Linked DNA regions of Homo sapiens: regions 1 and 3 are each linked to region 2. The links come from fine-mapping of genetic effects on gene expression. A gene starts in region 2. Each other region holds a variant in brackets. All regions are shown on one strand. Distances are between the middles of the regions.

Region 1 (5,219 bases), 34 kb before region 2:
AGCAGGGGCTTAGTGGAGGTAGCAGCATTTGCTGCAGTCAAAAAGCAGCTTAGAGGAGCCCCTGTCTGAATAAATTCCTCTGGCAAGGGCCGGTCCCCAAGGTAGTGGTGTTTCAGAGGCTCAGGAGGAAGGGCAATGTGGGTGGTCAAGAGAGTCCTGGCCTGCGGTTCAGGAGAGCTGAGTACCAGCAGCTCAATACCACTGATTAAACTCCTCCCCATGCCAGGTACTGTACCACGTGCTTTACATACATCTCCTTCATCTCAGGACAGCATGGAGGTAGAGGTTGTCATGATCCCTATCTTAGAGGTAAGAAAGCTGCAGCTCAGAGATGTCAAGTCACTTGCCCATTGTAACACAGTTGGATCCCAGAACTCAGCCAGCAGATAATCCTGCCACTTTGTTAGTCTAGGTGTTTCCAGCATTGGCTGGGTGACCCTAGAAGAACCCCTTGCCTTCTCTCGGCCTTAGGCTCTGTCTCTAAAGCCCAGGCTCCTACCAGATCCTGTCTAGGCCTGTATAGCTTTGACACAAGTGGGACCGGGAAGGCACAAGGCTGTGGCTGCTGCTGTCTCCTGTGGCCCCTTGAGGAGGGGGCTGCCTGGATGCCTTGGAGCAGGCGCAGACCTTGCCCTGCCCAAGGCACTGTGGGTGGAATGTCCAGGGGTGACCAACCCACAGGGCCCTGGCCTCCTGTGTTCACTGGGTGACAAGACCAGGATGGCCACAGCACTGGAGAAGGGCTGGGAGATCTTGGAGCTTCCCAAGATTGAGAAAGTGGCTCGTCACATCACAGGGGGCTTTTAAGGTGGGCAAATGCTCTGAGGAACATCCAGCCCCACTACAGTGCCACTAAAATGAACATCAGAAATTGGCCCCAGCTTCAGCTTCCTTTGGATAATGAAATCTGTCTTCTTCTCTGCGTTTATTTATTTATTTGGCAGGATCGCCGTTCCACGGGAACATGATCCCACTGCCTTAAGGGGCCACTCCACAAGGGGGACAACATGGAGGATGATGAAGCAGGAGGGTCAAGGCCCACTTCCAGCTCCCCAGGGATTCTGCCACCCTCCACAGAAGTGAGGAGAAGAGGCAGTGGGAAAATGTACCAGGGTAAGCGCAGAAGAGGCTGGATCTGACTTCATCCCTAGAAATAGTTGTGTGGTGGGTGGTGGCTTCAGGGTCCAATCAGTTTCTGTGGCAGCATCTTTTGCTGTCTTTTAATGAACAGCAGGGGTGTCACCTGTCAGGAAGGACAGGCTGTCTAATGGACAGATGAATCCGGAACCAGGTGCCCAGCTTGGCTGTAGCTCTTGGCCTCAGAAGGCGTCAGGAGTCTGTGGCATTGGCTGACACACCAGTGCCTCTGAGTGCCAATGAGCAAAGAATGATACAGCTGGAGCTGATGTGGTCAAGCATTTGGAACTAGAACCGTACAGAGACCCACCAATCAGAACCGACACCAGCCAGGATCATTGGTAAGGTCCCCCATGGGATGCTGATGGGGCCTCATTGTCCAGATTCCCGAACACCCCGAGGGAAAGTAAGTTCTTTGTTGAGAAGGACTCACATCCAGGTTCTAAGCCTATAGGAAAATGAAGAGGACATTCAGGCTGTCAAAGCTCTTGGGCCCTGGGCACCCTGGAGCCGGAGCCCTGGCATGGAGACCCCTCCATGACCACAAACAGGCAGGTCTCGGGAACACACGGCACAGCTGCCCAGTACCTGCTGCCCCTGGGAGGTTGGGACCCGCCCCACCCTCCCTCCGGCCTGTCATGGTATGCCAGGTCACCCCGTGACAGCTCACATAACTACATGGGAAGCTGGCATCCACTTATACCCCCACCGCCTGCTGGGCATCTTTCTGTGGCAGGCATTTCCTCCCCAGTTGGGGTTTAAAGAGGAAGGCAGGCACTGAGGGAGCCTCTGCCCATACTTGGTCCTCATTCTAGCTCCAGGAGGCTCCCCAGGGTCTCCATGAGGCTGAGGAGCCAGCCTGCCAAGGATGTAGCTCTGTGTGCCCCAGGTTTGCCCATCTCCAGCTCTTGTCAGCCACACACCTTGCCTACTGGAGACATTCCAACAGTGCCCT[G/A]CCTGGTGTACCTGCCACACAGACAGATGGCAAAGGCTGGAGGGGTGGGAGGAAGTGAGTTTGTGAAGTGAGCTGGAAAGAGAATGAGCAGCTGGAGCTCTGACCCTCCCCTCCCTCCCCTGCTTATATGTGCATAGCCAGCTCCCCTTTGCATGGTAGGAGGGCCTCTCACCAGGAAGCCGAGTCAGCTGAGCTCTGGGGTCCCTTCTGAGTCCCAGATCTGATGTCTCAGGGCCAAATGCCAGCTGCACAAGCCACCAACAGTGTGGTTCTAGACCTGTGTCCCTGCCTTGGCCCCGCCTTGATTGGGGCCGGCCTCCCAGGGCTGGAATCCTGGAGGATGCGGCCCTGGGACTGTAGCCCACACTGGGCACCGCCTAGCCCCACCGGAGCCCTGGGTCTCTGCAGCAGCCACTGAGTTACCCGTGTGTTTCCCCTTCCTGGACTGTGGGCTCTTCTCTGTCTCCTGAGGATGGGGCATGGCACAGAACCAGTGCTCAAAAACTGTTTGGTGGGGAGTGAGGGAGTGAGAGAGAGAGATAGCTAGAGGTTGGCAGGGGGAGCTTCTGATGCTGCTCTGGTTTGCCCAGACTCAGACTACTTAAATTCTGGCTTCAACACACACTAGCTCTGTGGCCTTGGCCCCGTTACAGAACTTCTTTGGGCCCCAGTCTTCTATGGAAATGGAGATAATAATAGTACCTGCCACATAAAGTAATTATGAGGATCAAATGAGACAATGCAATAAAGTGCTTATCACAGTGCCAGGCGCAGAGTAAGCCCTTAATAGATGTTGTTGTTATCATTACTAATTAATGTCCTCCAGCCTTATCTGACTCCATGCTCCCTGGACAAGCATCACGGCCACTGCCGAGTCCTCGGTTTCCCACTGTGCTCCAGGGTAGCACTTGGGTCCCTGGGGGGCATTTGCCTTCTGATGTTTCAGAGCTTATTTCCAGTCCCAACCCTGCCACTGCCTAACCCTGTATCCTCGAGCAAAGAATTCTGAGCTTCAGGGTCCTCATCAGGAGAATAGGGCAGTGTGAGTCGTAACCTGGAGAGCTGGTGGGAGGGTGCAGTGAAGAGGGCCAGGTGTGTGGGGACAAGAGTGCCACTGCCAGCAGAGGCCACCCAAGTCGCCTTAGTGGCTGAACAGGAACTTGCCAGGGAGTAACAGGGGAGAGGCTGGCTGGGTTATGACAAGAGTGGGGGTAGTCATCGAGGGAGTGGGCAGCCTGGGTGGGTCCAGGAGGAAGAGCCAGGGACTGCATCCATGGGTCTGGCATGTCCCACCTTCTAGTCTCTTATAACTGCCCAAGCAGAGGTCGCGGGCTCTTCCCACTTGCTGCTCCTTTCCTCCAAAGGAGCATCTGGCATTCCTTTAGCGTCACTGTGGCAGAACCTTCTCCTTCAGGGCAGAGCAGGTGGTGGCAAGATCAAGGGACCCTCCACTGGGTCTAGGGCAGGGAGCTCATCTGCCCCCAGCAGCCTGGGACAAGCTGCACAGCACCCATGTGTGCTGCGGGCAGGATTGTGAGTCCTGGGTGAAGGGGCACAGGGCCCTGGGCTCTGGGCATGTCCTGGGGCAGAAAGTCTCCCACCTCAGTGCTTCTAGCCAGCTCTCCAGCAAGATGCACTCCTGTTCTCTCTCTTCTGTGAGTAGTGTTGCTGGCAGGTGGCTACAGGTAAGGCCACTTCCCTGAGCATTGTCCCCAGACGATGGCTACAGGTAAGGTCTTTCTTCTCTAAGTCCACAAGCTCAGAATGGGCTTCTAGCCCCTCTCCCTCTGGACGAACTGTTCCAGGGCCCTCAGCATTTCCATGAGGCATCCTGCATCCCCCACCTCCCAACCTCCAGCTTGTCCCAAACAGAACTTTGACCCTTCCTCTCCAACCTACCCCCCTTCTGCTCTGCCTTGTCCGGAGGGCAAAGGCGCTGGCATTGAAAGTCCTGGGTTCAAGTCCTGCCTCTGTCCCTTATCCGTGGACCTCAGGCAAACCCTGAACATCTCTGAGCCTCAGTTTCTTCATTTTTGAAATGTGGATAGCCATAGCCTTACATCATAGGGTGCTTGATCAGAATGTAAGTGATATTGTATTTAAAGCACAAGGCCCAAGGTCATCTGTTGAATATATGCCATGGTTATTATTAGTTACCTGGGCTCAGAGGCTCATAATTGCCTCAACCCCTCCTTGGCCCACACCTAGTAGGTAGCTAGAACTTGCTAATGTTACCTCTGCAACCTCCCTCTCGTTACTCCCCTCACCTGCTTCCTCTGCTTCTCTGTGTCTTCTCTTAGAGCGGGGGTCCCCAAGCACTGGGCCATAGATCTGGACTGGACTGTGACCTGTTAAGAACCAGGCCTCACAGCAGGAGGTCAGCGGTGGCAATAGATTCTCACAGGACCCCAAACCCTATTGCAGACTGCGCATGCGAGGGATCTAGGTTGCAGGTTCCTTGTGAGAATTGAACTAATGTCTGCTGATCTGAGGTGGAACAATTTCATCCTGAAGTCATCCCCCCATCCCCATACATGGAAAAACTGGCCACTGGTCCCAAAAAGACTGGGGACTGCTGCCTTAGAGAGATCATTGCTGCCCATTCCCAGCTTCTCTCCTGCCCCTAATTCACCCTCTACACTGAGCTATACACAGCTGGATACATCACATCCCTCTGAGAAACCTTCCGTGGTTTCCTGCTACCCACCAAATAGAAGCTGGCTTTCAGGGTGGTGTCCAACTCCCTCCACGGTCTGCCTCCCCAACCCCCAACTTTTCTTTCCAGCCGTACCTCCTACTCCATCCCTCCGCAGGAGCTTACTACAACCGCTCCAGATCATTCCTCATTTCCCAGAGTGGGGTGTGGGGTGTGGGGGTGTGTGTGGAAAAAACACAGTTGTTCAGGTCTCTATTCTTTATTATGTTGTTTCATTGTTTTAAAATGTCCTCATGCACATTCTCATTTACTGAAATCTTACTTGCCATTCAGGGATTCCTTCAAATGCCACTTCTTCCATGCAGCCATTTCTGATTCCTCCCTTCAGGAGTAGTCACTCCTTTTCTTGCATTTCCCAAACTAGATGCCTATGCTTCTGTTTAGCACTTGCCCAGCCCTGAACCAAGGAAC
Region 2 (5,197 bases):
GGGGCTGTGCTAAACCCTGAAAATCAGATGCTTATCCCTCAGCAGCCAGGACCCCCGAGATACCTGGAGGAGCTCTCACTGCCCTGACACCTTCTTCACCACCCAGCCAGTCTGGGCTCATTCTGCCTGAGCCCAGAGATGCTGCACCTCCACCCCAGGCCCAGGGAACCATGGACGGCCCGATGGAGTTCTCCGGATTCCCTGGAGCCTGGCAGGGCGTGGGAATGAGCTGACAGCAGCAGTCATGGGTGCACCACTAGCACCAGTACGCTTGCCCTGTGACCGCTCTCTCTGCTCTGGCCCTGCAATCTCCTCCTTGGCCACCCTGGAGAACTGCTCCAGCAGGTGCCAGCCTGGCAGGGGCAGCTGAGAAGAGCCTGGCTATAGGGAATAGGTACATCTTGCCAAAATGCTCACAGCACCCCACCCACCACAGTTAGAGCTGTGCTCCAGTGTTTGCTACATCAGCACTGTTTCGCATGTTCAGAGGGGTTGGAGCGTTTGTCCCAAGCTTCCAAGTAGCAGAGTGGGGATAAAAACCCAGGGTTGCTGGCCTCTACCACCGTGATCTTTACTGCTGCACACTCCCTCCAGCTAAGTAAGATATCCTCTCCCATTTCTTCCCCATGGAAACCTTCCATGGCCAGGACCTTCCATGGCCAGGACCTGCTCCAGGACCTCTTCCCAGACTGCTGCGGCCCCCACCTGCCTGTCCTCCTCTCTATCTGGGCCCTGAATCCCCTGTGCTGTCCAGATTCCCACAGATCATCAAGCCTCACCCTGTCAAGGCCCAGCCTTTCCTCTGGTGGCACAAAGAGGCTGCATGTCCCTCCTTCCTGGGGAGGGGACAGCCTTTTCCTGTATTCCGAAGATTGCCATAGCTACCTGACACGCTAGTAGTGTTTAATCTACTTGGATCAAAAAAATTTGGAGAATGGAAGAAAGCATCCTTTCTCCAGAAAAATAAGAAACCTGGTTTAGGAAAAAGAAGGTGTGGACTAATTTGTGGCCAAGGACAGCAGAGCCAGGCGACCCACACTTGGACCCTAGCGGCCTGGGCCAGTGAGCAGAGACCAGGGCACCACCCCCTGCAAGAACTGTCCCCTCTCCCCGCACCCCCCGGGTCCTTAAGGGGTGGAGGGGGAGGGCCATGGGGGCTCAGTAAGCCTCGGCCTGGGCCTCTGGGCGCGCTTGCCGCTGCGCGGGCGCGGGGCGGCTGTCACACCACCCTGGCCGGGTCCCGAAAGGGAGGAGTGGAGCTTGCCCGCCTCCGCGAGCCTCCGCGCGCCCAGCCTTCCTCCACCTGCCCGGCGTGCCCAGGGCGCTCCCAGCGCTGGAAGCCGGGGGCGCTTGCCCGAGGCGGGAGTCGCTGGGTCATGCTCTTGCCCACCAGGTCCTCCGAATCCCTGGTAGGGCAGCGTCTGTCCGTGTCCCCGACCCCTCCCGCAGGCAACTCGCGCGAACCTGGGGCTCGCAGAGAGCGAGCGCCCGCGGACACCGGCTGAACAGTCTGGAGGCTGCGCGAGGGGGCGCCGCGGGGAGGGATAAAAGCCAGCAACAAAGAGCACAGACCTCGTCCAGCAGTTGATTGACTCGTCCCAAAATAGCCGTCTCCATTTGCTGCTCCCCGCGCTCCGCTTCCAGGCGCAGCACCCGGGCCTGCAGCTCGGCCGTCCGAAAGTGGGCGAGCAGGCTGAGTGCCAGCGAGCAGAGGGCCAGCGTCAGCAGCCCGCACGACCCTGGACTCGGCAGCCGTGCGCCGCGCTCCGCCCGCGCCGCCACCAGAGCCACCGTCCCGGGCGCGCCCAACTCCCCAGGGCCGCGGGCACCGGTGGCTGCCGCTTTGTGGGTGCGCTCCGCTACCATCCTCTCGCGTCTTGAGAACCAATAAATAAATAAATAGAATAAATAAAGGCGACAGCCGCTGCCAAAAGGCTCTATCCAAACTGCGGGGCAGGGGGAAAGGGCTTGTATCGCTGGAAAACGTCCCTTTCCGCTGCTCCCGGCAAAGAGGACGGAAAAATTAGCAGTAGGAGAGGAAGTGCCGAAAAAGCACAACCAGCGGTAATTGGGGTACACCTAGGTGAGAAAAAAGTTATTTCGAAGAACGTTCCAAGTCCAGGAAAGTTAGGGGAATCTGACCGGCTCTCCTTCTCTCCGCCCAGTCTTTCCCTTCAAGTGTCTGCAGAGCAGTTGGTGCCGCGCTGTCAGTCCTTCTGGGCGCCTCGTGTCTCCCGGGCCAGTCAGTTTCAGTCCCCGGGCGAAGGGGCGCACACGGAGGGCCCCATGGGCAGAGGTGGGTCGTGGCGGCTGGCGAGGAGCGCAGGGGCCGATTCCGGCGCCTCTGTAACTTGACACACTCCCTGCGGCGGCACGGATCGGATGAGCAATCCGTGCTACTTCCCAAACTAATCTCTCCCTCCCCCCTCCCTCCTCCTCCTCCTCCTCGTCACTCCTCCTCCACCTCCCGCGGGGCCGACGGCTTGGATTTGTTTATTTATGCAAACTCGCCCAGGGTGGGGGGCGTGGTGAGCAGGTCCGGCGGCCCCAGCCCGCCGGCCCGGGAGCCCCTCTGCCGCGCTCCCCGTCCTCTTTGAAGTGACACTTGGGGTTATTTATAGGCAGGAAGGGGGTGTGGAGTGGAGCTGGCGCTGCACTTCCCTCTCTTTCTCCGGATTCACACCGAGGGCTCGTTTGGCCTTCCACGGAGGCGGTGAGGCGGGCACCACCTTCCATGGACGCGTTGGGGCAGGCACCACTCCACCTTTCCCAGCCCTTGAGACCCTCCAGGAACTCGACTGAGTTATTGTCAGGGCTTGTGGGTGGATCTCCACGTCCTGATCAGGACTACCTGATCCCTTCAGCCACCGCTCCTCTACTCCCAAGCCCCCAACCTCTTTCCCCTTCCTTCTCCCCCGACAACCGACTCCCCGGGGGCTCTGTACCTCCTGAGATCTGCAGCTCCTCCAGTGCCGGGCGGCCAACCACATCTTTACTCTGGGGTGAAAAGTCAGCCCTCCAGGGGGCAGCAGAGCTGGCAGCCCTTCCTCTCAGGACCAAGACCTGAGGTAGTATGAGACACTGAAAACGGAGGAGATCTTATTCCAGGTATCTGAGAGGTGGCTCATTGGGGCCGCCTGCCAGTCCTGACATCTCCCCTTCTTGCCTGCCATTAATCTGAGACCCATGCCATCTATCCCTGTGTGGTGAGACCAGCCTGCCTCAATCATCCCAGTCATCAAAGGTGAGCAATTCCTACACAAACTCAGGTTCCATCCCTGCGGGAGGCTTAGGGCTAACCAGGCTCTCTCCTGTTGTCATTTCCTATATTCCACTAGAGAAAAACTGGTGGCCTGAAGGGCATTTGGTAGTTTTCTCTCTTCTCTTGTCACCTCCTCCACCCCCCACATTAAGTAGCATTTGTATCCCAAGAGACTTTATCTCCTTGTGCCTGTTGACATTCCTGTGAATGAGGTGGTGGGACTGAGTTTTTGGGAGAAAGCCTGTCTTCCTGGAACAGCGGGCAGAGGAGAGTAGACTGGGTTTTCAAATATGCAGTGGAGGTGGGGGCAGCAGTGGTGCTGGGATTCCATTTCAAAATAACAAGGCATGCCAGTACAAACTTCCCATTTTCTATATTGACCTGATGGAACTTGATATATAATACAGTGTCACTGCACTTCTAATAAAGTGTGGCACACTTAATAGTGCATATTGGACTTGTAACATAGTAAGTACTGAGATCATATGTAATAAAGGTAACATTGACTGCTGGGCCAGTCAGCCACTATGGAGGACAACAGGAATAGAAGGCGATGCTGCTGAAAGAGCCCGTGGCCAGGAGCTCTGGGTTCCAGTTCCAGTTCTAGGATTCTCCTGATGGCTTCAGTGGCAAGGGCACTCTGTTTTCTCCATCCCTGTGATGGGATGTCCCAGTCCACTCTACAGAGGAATGAATCCTTGGGAGACTTGGATGGTATTGAAGAACACCAGGGGGCGTTGGAGAGTTTCTGCACTGGGAGGTACAGGCCAGGAAATTCAGGGACTTTGGACTTCCCCCACTCCCCTCCCAGGCTAGTCTGAATGGAGGAACTGAGGTGGGGAGTTAGTTTCATTCCCTCCTTATTCTGCAAACTGATCTTTTCCCTTTCAGGACTTTGGAGGCCCTCAGGAATGCTCAGGCAGTGAAATCTAAACAGTTTGGAGCTGGAGCATCCTTGTGATTGGGAACTGAAAGAGGAGGGTGTTGCGCTAGCCTGACCTGGCCCCAGCATTGCAAACCCTGGAGCTTCCAGGGGGACTCTGGAGTCAGAGAAACCTGGGTGTAAATCTCCCTTTTGTCAATGTGGAAGCTGCTGAACATCTCGGAGGCTCAGTTTTCTCATTTGTAAGATGGGCTGATAATAAAAGTATCTACCCGTCTGGAAGGACTGAATGAGGTAATGTATGTAAAGCAGTGAACACAGTGCTGGCACAGGGCAGGCACTCAATAAAGGGCATCGGCTCCTTCTTTGGAATTCATGGCTGCTAGGGCCATCTCAGACACAGCTAGCTCTGGGCTCCCAGTTGTGAAACAGGAAGAAGTTTCCATCCCAGAGAAAGCAAATGGATCACAGTTAACCTCCATTTTTTCCCTACCTGACAGCTGAGAGTAGCAGCTTGTGAGCAGCAGGAGTTAGCTTGTGTTGAGGGGCCTGATCCCCAGGTATCCCTCTTCTTCTTCCCACACTGCTTAGAATTCTTGCCCTGGGAGATTTTTCTTTCAGGTAGAGCATTGTCTACCCCAGGCACAAGTTACAGCCTCATGTGGCTTATCTTGAACCCTTCTTTCTTCATAGGTGGGGGCCAGGACCTGGGGACACTGAGGTGAAAAGAGTGCCTTCCAGGAGCTTTAAAAACAGTTGATTAAGGAAGACAAGTCATGTTCACATAAAACCGCCACAAAAGGCAGAATAGCGAAAATCCACAAAACATGTAAAGACCACAAAAGGTGCTTCAGGGCTCCCAGAAGAAAGGGGGGGGATTCAGATGCCTCAAGAAAAACACCAGGAAATAGATTTTCTTGTTTGCAGTAAGAAGAAAGAGGGCCTCCAATGCTAACCCAAAGACTTTGATTTTAAACTGTGGTCTTGGTTACACACCTAGACAAAAATGAAGAAAAAATGCCCCAGGCATACAGCCTCTACTGTTCTTCAAG
Region 3 (5,219 bases), 31 kb after region 2:
TGTCCTAGCTACTTCCTTGTCCTGGGAGGATGAGAGACACAGTGTCTCTGGGAGCAGAACGTCCCCAGCTGACCCAGAGACCTGCAACAAGAAGCAGCCTAGGGCCTAGCCCCTTGGCCAAGCCCAGCCTGGATTAGTTGAGCCACAGCCAGCCTCCTTGAGAATAACTGATTTTTGTGTTAAGCCACTGAGTTTGGGATCATTTGTTATGCAGCATTATTGAGGCACTAGCTAGCTGATATACCTATCCTGCCAGAAGACCAGGGTAAAGCAGTTAGTAGGTACACAGCGTGGGTTGAGGGCTTAGTATTTGGTTATCAGTTGAGGCTTCCTGGCAGGCGTCATTAAAGAATACTAGAGTATTGGCCCTGGAGGAGCCTCTAAATGAATTTTGGCTGCAGAGACAATCCCAGAGTTGAGCTTTGACTTGTCCTAGGCCACATGGGGGATTTGTGCAGAGCCTACACTAGCACTCAGGGCTAGTGGCTCCTCAAGACAGTAAGCTGACTCTCCACTTCCTATGGACCAGGCTGATGATAACCATGTCTCCCTCTGCTTCCTCCTTGGCCATATGTGTGAGTTTCATGTCATCAAGCTGGAATTTTGACAAATATGAGGTGGTGGCAAGGGAGAAGGAGCAGGAAAAAGGTTTGGCCAGAGACAAGACTCCAGGTGCAAGAAGGGATGTTTTGTCTGTACCCACATTTCCCTTGGGTGCCAAATGCCCCGTGATGGGACCCCCAGCCCAGAGCCCAGGCTTCAGGCCAGCTTCCGCAGTCTCATCTTGGGAGGGAAGCTTGTGCTCAGGTGCCAGAGGCACAATGACTGCCTCACCTGTCACCATTAATGTCTGGCTTCCTTTCATCTCCCAGAAGCCTAGCACAGACAGCCATGGGGATGGACCAGAGGTAGGCTGGGAGAGGTGGGGACTAGAGCTCCAGGAAGGGAGCTGCTGCTCCTTGATGTTTGTGCCTTGCTGATGTCACTCCTGGCTTCAGGGCCTGGAGAGACACCTTTGCACACTCCAGACTTCCTTGGCTCAGAGTGGAATCAGCTTCTGAGGCTCTTACCAGGGGAAGAGGGGGCACAGCCCACCAATCTCCCCACTGTGCTGGGAGCTGGAGAAGAAGGGGGGCCTGGGATATGGATTTAAGGGGTTCTTTGAGTCCACTCTACCAACTCTGGGCAAAAGAGAGTGAAAAAGGCACCAACTGGGGAGTCAGCAGACTGGGATTTTGACCCTAATGTTGCATTTTATTAGCAACTCATGTGACCTTTGGCAGGCAGCTTCCCATATCTGGGCGTCAGTCTTCCATTTTGTAGAATGGCCATAATGGAATAACTGCTCTGGAGGGTGCCTTCAGGCCTGATATCCAGTGATGGCATTGGGGCCGGAATATTTCCTCTATTCCGATGGGAAAATAATAGCTCCTATTTATCCAGCCCTCAATATGTGCCAGGTACTGAACTAAGCCCTTGCACATATTAGCTCTGTTCAGGCTCACAGCAATTCTATGAGGGAAGTATTCTTATTGTCCTCATTTTACAGATGAGGAGACTAAGACTCAGCAAGGCTCAGTAACTCACTTATGGCCACACAGCCTGATGAGAAGCCATGGTTTCAGACAAGGCTGTCTGACTCCACAGCCTGCCCTCCTAACCTCTCTGTTGTGCTCTAGTGAGAAAGCTCTTTCTCTGGTCTCTTCCTTCCAAGATCCCATGCTCCTTCCAAGACCCCCCCCCTCCCTGTGCACTTCCACAGTCAAAAAAACCTCCAGGCTTTAGGCTGGAAGAACTCAAGATGTCTGAAAGAAATCCCTTCAACAATGGAGATAAATGCAATCTAACCCATCATCCTTTCTATACTGGCCTCCCCCATGAGGCCAGTCCCGCCCCAGTGCATGATGCTAGGAGAGATGGAAGGTGGTCCCTGCCATCAGGATGATATGCTGATAGCCTGGCTGGGAACCTAAGACTGACCCTGGGCAGTCTGGTTCCTCACCCAGCTTTGGACCTGGGGGGCCCACTACAGTGCCTGACATGCAGTAGGTGCCCAGTGAGTGCTTGTTGATTGCACTTTGGTGAGATGGAATAAGCAGCTATGGGCTACGGCTGGCAAAGGTGCAGCATTGCTCTCTCTAGGCTGGAAACCTTTGCTTTGCCCCTCTGAGCTGCCATAGCTCAGGAAACAGGGAGGCACCAACACCCTGAAGAGGAAGTGCCTCTGGGCATCCAACTCACTGAAGTTGAGCCACAAGTGCGAGAGGAGATCTTCTCACCAGCACCCCTTTCCTGGAAAACCCTCTACTTTCTCCCTTGAGGTCAACAGGCTGTTTGCACCCATGATCCCTTAATGAGCTGGCCATGAAGTCTGAAGGTCTGGGTGAACAACGCTAAAATGCTGCTTGGAAAGGGGAGGCACGCCGTGGAGAAACGGGTGGATGTCCAAGCCCTTCTTCCTGAATCAGGCTTGACTGTCCTTTAGGGTCAAGAAAACCCCTTTGATTTCATAGTCCAGGCATGGTGGGGACAGGGTCACAGAGACCAACCACTGTTTGGTATGATTGGCTAGAGATGGGGACACAGCACCAACCTCACCACCACTAATGAGCTGCATGACCTTTCCTGCCCATCAGGAACAGGAAGTCAAGGCCCTACGTCGCTCTGGAGGCTGTGAACTCAAATGTGACAAAATAGGAGAATTGCTAGGAGAAGAAGCCAAGTGCTGTATAGAGGCTGGGCAGGACTGGGACAGCTGGTTCTGAGGAGGCTTGCCCTGAGAATCCCAAACATATGCCCTCGGGTCAGACATGGAACCTCCCTGAGCCTCTGTTCCCATTTCTTCATTTGTTGGTTCATTCATTCATTCAATAGCAAGTCACTAGTGACTCAGACAAGGGCATGCTTGCTATACCAATCTGGGCAGCAGTGAGGCTGTGGGGTGCCCA[T/C]GTGGTATTTTGCTGTGTGATCTTGGTCAGGTCATTTCCCATCTCTAAGCCTTACAACCTCCAGCCTTGCAGGGTCATAAGACCCTGGAATCAGCCCACCTGTGCTGCAAACAACCTGGTTCCAGAGGCTGCGTAGTGTGGTGGGAAAGCAAGCTCTCCAGAAGCGGCAGGTGCGGATCCCTCTCCCAGCGCTGCCTCTTGCTCCAACCGGTTCTGAGTGTCCATTCTCTCTCTGGGGGTTGTGAGAATTCCTTTACTGCAGGAACAGCACTTGGGAGGTACCTGGTACCTAGTCAGTGCTTGATAAGACTTAGCTCTGTCTTTCACAGAATTCGCTCTTCATGAGAAAATAAACTTGCTGAGCTCTGGTTTATGTTGGTCTTGCAAAGCCTTGGTTTCATTCAGGGCGGTGTTGGCCCACCCTGAGTCTGAGGATGCCGTGTCCAGCTCCTCCTCTGCCTTTTCTGGATCTTCCCCCTCATGCAACCCCCAACCTCCACGAAAGGTCCATGCCTTCCTTGGGGTCCCTTGCTCTGTGAAATGCAGCGTCCTCATGCTCTGTTTCTTCTTCTCATTCAAACCTGCCATTGGAAAAGGGCTGGATGACTCATTTATATCAAAGAGTAAATGATTGATATGGCTGGGGCTTTTTCCTTGCAGGGGGCTACGTTTTGGAAGAAAACAAAGCCATAAATGGGCTGAGTGATTATGACAGTCCTTTGGGCATCGATGTGCAAAGGAGAGCTCTTTGTGGGTTGGAGGAACCTATCTGGAGGGGGCCCAAGAGTCCTGGGACACCAAGGCTGTTGCTGCAAATCGGCACAGCAGGGCGTCCTGGCAGTGACTCACCCTGGCAGGAATGCAGTGAGCTCCAGGCAGCCTCAGCCCTCCCCTCTGGCCTCTCTTGGACCTTCCTTCTGGTAGTACATCTGGACCCCAAAAGGCAGCTGTTTTGGGGGCTCCGCGGAACCCACAGACCTTCCCTGACTCAGCCCAGTTCCCACCCCCACTGGCCTTGCAGCTCCGTTTGTCCCTTTGCTCAGATCCCAGCTTCTAGGAGTTTCCTGGGATTTGGGAACAAGATGGCCTGATTTGTTCTAAGAGCGTTTTTGTTTATATTCCCTGGTTCTTTCTACTCTTGGGGGAAAGGAAGAAAATAAAAGAAAAAAAAGGGAGGGAGGGAGGAAGGGAAGAAAGGGAGGAGAGAAACTTGTGCTTTGACCAAAGAATTGAAATGGGATTTTCCCCTTTTTCCTTCTTCTTCATTTTTCTCCCCAGCAGCAAACTACCAGACTCAGAAATGGAAGAGTGGGGATGCCTTTGGCTTCCGGACGAGCCAAGGATGGCAGCTCTGCCTGGTAGGAGCGAGGGCCACCAGACCTCAGGGGCAAGACCTGGGCTTCCTGTCCTTCATCCCAGGGGAGTGTCTTGGGGGACAAGCTGACAAGGCCAGGAAGCGTCAGCATGTGGGTCTTCCCGGACCCCTCACCCACCACGCCGAAGTGTTTCATCACCCCCTTGCTCTCATACCTCACTTTTCATTCCATGCTGCACTCCCAAAATCAGAGAAGAGGAGGAAGAAGAAAAGGACAGGATGCCCACCACAGCCCCCATTCCATTTTCTTCTCACCCTGCATTATTCTCTGACATCGTGTTGTTGGTTTATTTGTGTATTCCTGTCTCCCCTCACCAGAACGTGACCCCAAGAGGGAGAGATGGGGTCTTTCTCATGCATTGGGTCGCCACGGCACCCATGGCCCAACTCTGGGACTCAGTGGATGCCAGGAGAGCAAGAGGAGGTGAGCTTACTCATCACCCTCAGCCTGCTGCAGCCACCAGCAGCCCTGGAAGCTCCAGTCTCCAGATTCCCTGCCCACACATGCACCATATGCACTCATGTGCATACATCCACATCCTTGTGTGCACATTCACACACACACATGCGCATTCACACACATGCATGTGTGCCCTCACACATACATTCACATGCACACACATACACACATGTCCACGTGTACACTCCATGCACACGCTCACAGGACCATGTTGAGAGGGGCTCTATGTCTCAGAGCCTCTGAGATGAGCGAGGGAACCCGAGGCCAGAGCCCTCAGCCCCCAGCCTTTGCCTGAAGAAGAGGAGAGTGACTCAGTTCTGCCTTCGTTGGGGTCCCTTAGCTCAAGGACAGAAGGTGCAGAGCCACCTGAGCTGCCAGGCCCCTCCCGAGAGTCTGACCAGCTGGAGGCTGAGGACGTGAGAGGCGGTGGTGGTGT

What was found. PIP is the estimated chance that this variant, and not a neighbour inherited with it, causes the effect.
Region 1: its variant is the best candidate, but not a certain one, in a credible set for the expression of COL13A1 in cerebellum (GTEx, PIP 0.82).
Region 3: its variant is the best candidate, but not a certain one, in a credible set for the expression of COL13A1 in whole blood (TOPMed, PIP 0.59).

What each region holds. Positions count from the first base shown.
Region 1 is chr10:69,833,508-69,838,726 of GRCh38, reverse strand. The region is part of intron 2 of COL13A1 (collagen type XIII alpha 1 chain); the gene reads right to left. Among named protein-coding and RNA genes, the nearest start is that of COL13A1, 34 kb to the right of the region's middle. The variant G/A (reference allele first, on the strand shown) is at 2,093.
Region 2 is chr10:69,799,093-69,804,289 of GRCh38, reverse strand. COL13A1 (collagen type XIII alpha 1 chain) reads right to left here and starts at 2,384. Exons shown (of 41, transcript NM_001368882.1): 1 at 1,573-2,384. The coding sequence starts at 1,866. LOC124902444 (a long non-coding RNA gene) reads left to right here and starts at 2,519. Exons shown (of 2, transcript XR_007062179.1): 1 at 2,519-3,244; 2 at 4,154-4,427.
Region 3 is chr10:69,768,127-69,773,345 of GRCh38, reverse strand. No RefSeq gene overlaps it. Among named protein-coding and RNA genes, the nearest start is that of COL13A1, 31 kb to the left of the region's middle. RefSeq lists enhancers at 3,548-4,311, 4,312-5,075, 5,076-5,219. The variant T/C (reference allele first, on the strand shown) is at 2,949.